Linked DNA regions of Homo sapiens: region 2 is linked to region 1. A link means that fine-mapping ties the variant in region 1 to the expression of a gene that starts in the linked region. Tissue or cell type: whole blood. Region 1 holds a variant in brackets; the other region holds the start of a gene. All regions are shown on one strand. Distances are from middle to middle.

What was found. PIP is the estimated chance that this variant, and not a neighbour inherited with it, causes the effect.
Region 2: it holds the start of SMC3, and the variant in region 1 is fine-mapped to the expression of SMC3 in whole blood (INTERVAL, PIP above 0.99).

What each region holds. Positions count from the first base shown.
Region 1 is chr10:110,595,189-110,597,943 of GRCh38, forward strand. SMC3 (structural maintenance of chromosomes 3) reads left to right here. Exons shown (of 29, transcript NM_005445.4): 19 at 1,210-1,362. Among named protein-coding and RNA genes, the nearest start is that of SMC3, 29 kb to the left of the region's middle. The variant T/C (reference allele first, on the strand shown) is at 1,253.
Region 2 is chr10:110,566,317-110,569,071 of GRCh38, forward strand. SMC3 (structural maintenance of chromosomes 3) reads left to right here and starts at 1,379. Exons shown (of 29, transcript NM_005445.4): 1 at 1,379-1,515; 2 at 2,622-2,697. The coding sequence starts at 1,501. It overlaps LOC105378483 (a long non-coding RNA gene), which reads right to left and starts at 992. Exons shown (of 2, transcript XR_946318.2): 1 at 717-992. RefSeq lists enhancers at 1-384, 1,199-1,248, 1,259-1,358 and a silencer at 1,699-1,988.

The DNA of each region.
Region 1 (2,755 bases):
AGGCTGGTCTCGAACTCCTGACCTCAGGTGATCTGCCTGCCTCAACCTCCCAAAGTGCTGGGATTACAGGCATGACCACCATGCCCGGTCTAGATTCTTTAAATATAAGACAGTTCCTCCTGCTCCCTTCTCCCCACCCAGAGAAATCCAGAAAAGTTCCATTTTCTGGATTTGTCTTATTGCTTCCTCATCATTGTTTAAATATTGTTGGCATGAATGCTACATGAATGATATGTACTTATGGTGTCATATAATGTGTCCCATTGTTAGTGATACTAGGTTTGATCACCTGCAGATCTCTCCGTTGTAAAGGTATCCCTTTGCCCCTTTGTAATTTAATAATATGTGAGATTATTCTTCAAGTCAGGTTCTCCCAACAACTTCAGTTGCTTTAGCACTTTGTTGACTCTTGCCTGAATCAGTTGTTACACTGGGGGGTTTCAAAATGGTGATTCATAAATTCTGTTATTGCTGCTGCATTTATTAGCTGTCACTCTTCTGTAGAAAAGAGTCTCCAATTTTCATTTTTTAAAAAAGTATCACTGTGATTCATGAATTTTTTTTTTTTAATTCAATATGTTATTACATTGGTATTGTTATTTTGATGCTCAAATTTTCCCAAATATGGCCAGTGGAAATTTCAAGCTAGGTCCTGTGTCCTACTAATATTTCCTCTTTAGTCTTCACTTCCTTCCCCTCTGGTAGATGTTCAGGTTCAACTGGAGGTTCTTTTTTTTTTTTTTTTTTTTTTAAAGACTGCAAATTTTGGCTGGGCACAGTGGCTTGACTCTGTAATCCTAGATACTTAAGAGGCTAAAGCATGAGGATCACTTGAGGGCAGGAGTTCGAGAACCGCCTGGGCACATAGCAAGACCTGGTCTCTACAAAAAAGGTGTGGTGGTGCACACCTGTAGTCCTAGCCACTCAGGAGGCTGAAGCAGGAGGATCACTTGAATCCAGGAGTTTGAGGTTGCAGTGAGCTATGACCGCACCACTGCACTCCAGCCTGAGCAACAAGAGCAAGACCCTGTCTCAAAAAAAAAAAAAAAAAAAATCTAGCATTGAAAAGCAAAATTTTTTCAGGGTGGTTTAAATTACTTTCAATTCTCATTATCTACTTAAAGCCTGTAGGTTAGTTTTTTTGTTATAAGTCAATTTATCATTGAATAAAAAAGTTGTACAGACCTATTACATATGTTTTGTTTATAGGTGACCAAGTCAGCCATCGGGGTGCTCTAACTGGGGGTTATTA[T/C]GACACAAGGAAGTCTCGACTTGAATTGCAAAAAGATGTTAGAAAAGCAGAAGAAGAACTAGGTGAACTTGAAGCAAAGCTCAATGAAAACCTGCGCAGAAATATTGAAAATATCTTTTTGTTTTGTGCATAGTGATAGATATTGTGGGGGAAGAACTGTGTTTTGGTTGCCATATATAATCTTTTGTTTTTTCACATATTAAAAATTTCTTGTGTTTTAAGTTCAAGAGCTTATGTTTGTTTAGCTTTTGAAGACTAAAAGCTATTTTAATGATTCTTTGCTTAAGTGTTAAGTAGCTAATACCATGAAGTCACTTGGAAGAAAAGAACCCATAGAACACAAAAATAAAGGTTGTATCAGGCAAAGAAAGAGGAAACTGAGAAGGATCAGTTTGTGAATTGTACAAGTAAAACCTTGGTAGTTTTTTTTTTTTTCCCTTCTTCCCTGTTGAATTTATGTAAGCAAGAGATACTGTTTTAAGGAAGAGAGTGGGGGCGGCATCAGTAATGTTACATATTGCTTAGAAGTCAAATATATAAGGACTGGCATTTTATTGTACTTGTACAGTGGCACAGGCCTGTAGTCCCAGCTACTTGGGAGGCTGAGGCAGGAGGATCACTTGAGCCTGGGAGGTGGAGGTTGCGGTGAGCTGAGATCACACCACTGCACTCCAGCCTGGGTGACAAAGTGGGACCCTGTCTCAAAAAAAAAAAAAAAGGTGACAGGGGAGGGTGAAAAATGTTAGATTTTACTGTCTTGAAGTTATTTGGTGCAGATTTAATGTTAGTGGAGGAAATGGCTGTCAGATAACCAAGTCGGAGTAGCCATAGTTTTTTTTTTTACATAAAAATGGTGCTGCATGAGGAGTGGTTAGTTCAGTTCACAAATGAAACAATTGTATATGTGGATTTTCTTAAAACCACCATGGTGCTTTGGTATAAGAAGTACTTTATGTGTGCTTTCCATTTTGCCACACAAGTTGAAAAATATAGGTACTTGAGCATCAAGAATAGATATAAAGTTAATGATTTTTAACTGCTTCAGGTGAAACTGGAATTTTTTTAAAACTGCAGATTTATAACTTCTGTGCCATCAGTGCAAGCACAGAAAAAGAAAAATAAGCACCTGAGCTTTGACCTTGCAGGGGTCTGCATATCGCACTTTAAAGAACTGCCTGAATTTGGCAAGATGTTAACACAAAGAGCGTATGGGGAAATACTGAGGAAAAGGAGGATGTTGACAGTGTATACCAGCTGTCTTCCTGTGTTTGATAATCCAGCTAGATTGAATTATTCCACACATGGCAAGAACTCTTCATACATAAACCCTTAACATAGTGCCTTAAGCATAGTAACAGTAAACATTTGTTGAATGAAAAGATATTTAAAAGTATGTAATATTGTTAGATTTCACCTAACCTCCTTTATGGTTTTCCAAGAATTTGTTTTGTATAACTTTTAGTAAAACAGTATACATGTTATTCTGAGAGTGAAATGGGGTGA
Region 2 (2,755 bases), 29 kb before region 1:
CAAAAAAAAAAAAAAAAGTTAGAAATAAAGAAAAGAAAATGCTTACATATTTATTTAATTTATTTTGAGACAGTCTCGCTCTGTTGCCCAGGCTGGAGTGCAGTGGCGCGATCTTGGCTCACTGCAACCTCTGCCTCCTGGATTCAAGCAATTCTCCTGCCCCAGCCTCCCGACTAACTGGGATTACAGGCACCCGCCACGACGCCCAGCTAATTTTTGTATTTCGAGTAGAGACGGGGGTTTCGCCATGCTGGCCAGGCTGGTCTTGAACTCGTGACCTCAGGTGATCCTCCCCCCTCAGCCTCCCAAAGTGCTGGGATTACACGCTTGAGCCACTCGACCAGGCCTATTTATTTTTTTAAACCAAGGGCTGGATAGGATTTGATCCGGGCTCCAGATAAAGGACTCCTAGGGAGATACCCTGGTTAGCAGAGGCAGTTAGGAGGCTACTAAAAATAGTTCAATCTAGAAATAATTAGGGCCAGAATTGTCTCCAGCAGCGGGCGGGGGTGGGGCTGGGGATGATTTGGGTAGTTATTTTGTTCTCTTCCCAGCAAGTAATTTCAGAGCAGCCCAGAGATTCATTTTCTAAACAAATGATGTTTTTCTCCCAAGACTGACAAGGATCAGACAGACCTAGGGTTGCCACTAGCACCTAGTATCTTTCAGGCTGTTTTCTTTTGTTTTTAAAGTGGATTAAAAGCTTTCAGCCTTACCTAAATCTTTGTTGCAATTGTACAGATCTGCCTAGATTTATAGCAGATGGTAGAACAGAAACAGTTCCCGACGGAATTAATCATCACATTATTAAAACAAATTTTCGAGCATTGACAAATCCCTTCGGGGTTGTCCTCCGAGTGGGCAATTCGTAACCAGCTTGGGGCGTGCTAAGATTGTAAACGTTCCTATGGAGAGCGATAACAAAGGGGCAGCAGTGACTCCGCACACAGAATTCCAAGAATCACCAGCATTCCATGTGTTCCAAGGCTAGCACAGTGCGCGCGAGGTCCGCTTTTTTAAACAGCGCGGAATCACGTGGCCGACAGCCCGCGGCGCTACTGGCCCTCGGAGTCTCCCTCTTGGCTTTGGCGCGGAACCTTTCCCCCTTTGTGGACGCGACCATTGGCCCCGCGCTCGGAGGTGGTACGGACCAACCCTACGGTCATAGATTTTCCGAGTGAAGCTTTTGACTAAGTCTCAGGAAAGCGTTAGCTACAGAATTCTAGATTCAAAAGAAATCCACCAAAAAACGCTGTGGAGGACTGGTTTTGCCTAAAAGAAAGAGCAGACCTGAACTTGACTCCTCCTACGCCCTGTGAAGGCTGCAAGGTGGTTCCGTCCGAGGCGCGGACTCCGCCCCCACGAGCGCCGCCATTTTGTTTGGCTGAGGGGAGCGAGCGGCGCTTTGGGGGAGGGGTCGCGTAGGCGCCTCACCTGACCCTGCGGCCGTGCGGTTGCTGCTCCGGGGCAGGTCTCCTTCCAGGCCAGGGGCCCGGAATCATGTACATAAAGCAGGTAAGGCCTTCGCGTCCCTCCACCCCGTCATGGGCCGGTAAGGGCCGCTCCTTGAGGCGGGAGTGTTGCGGCGCCACCCGCAGCCTCTCCCCTGTCTCCACAGGCTGGACCAGGGCTGGGCGGGGACTGTGGGGGAGGAGGGAGACCCGGGTCCCGCTAGTGCCCCGGCTGCGGGGTCGCGGAGAATTGGGGCACTCCTTTGCAGCCCCGGCCTCCCTGCTGGCGCTTGTCTGGGAGAGGCAGGATCTCCGAGAGGTGTGGAAGGGCCGGCGGGCGGGCCGCTGGGAGGGACTGGGCCTTCCTGGGTGGCCCCAGAGCTGGCGGGGGGCACCCCGCCGGGGCGGCCGCGGGCGGGAAGGGCTGTGTGGTCCTGCAGGGGTGGCCTCACACGGCCCATGTGCCTGGGATGTGTGGAAAGGTGGCTTCCCCGGCCCGGGGGCGGCCCTGGGGGCATTGGCTGGGGTGTCGTCACCTGTCACTGCGGGGAGCCGTTCTTCTCCCCAGTTAACCCGCGAAGTGAGCGGGACCCTCCTGCTTGCAGGATACGGAGCGCCGCCTCCCTCGGTTGTTTACTTCTGTCAAAATGGTCTTCCCGCGCGGGACTCCACCACAAAGATGAGCCCAGGCACACGGCCTTGGAGACGGTTTTCTGTTGGGTCTGTCGGGCTCTGAGCACTCCTTCTTTGGAACGTGGGTTCTTTCAGGCTGGCCGGCGTGAGTGACTGAAAGCAGCACTCGGTGGTCTTGGAGTCAGGAGAGCTGGGGCCCGTCGGCCTGCTTTTATAGACTTGCTATTGTACTGCAGCGTTTAGGGTTCAGTTAAGCTCACACAGTGTTTTTGATTTTGAAAGGTCCTTAACAGGTTGACAGCATAACTCCTAAAAAAAAATAAAACCCAGCAGCATTGCCTTGGCAAAGATTACCGATAAAAGTACCTTTTTTTTTTTTTAGCAGATTTTTAATCACCACTTTCCAAAATGAATTTTTCTTATATGAAATTTCGAGTTTTCTATATTGCATTAAATGAAAAACAAGAAAGAAATGCAAGAGAAAAATGTTAATTTTTTTTGTGGGGTGGGTTCTCAAAAATGTTTTTTATTTACTAGGTGATTATCCAGGGTTTTCGAAGTTACAGAGATCAAACAATTGTAGATCCCTTCAGTTCAAAACATAATGTGATTGGTAAGTGTTCTTGGTTTACTCGGTCATATTTATAGTCTATACAGATAATGTAAATTCT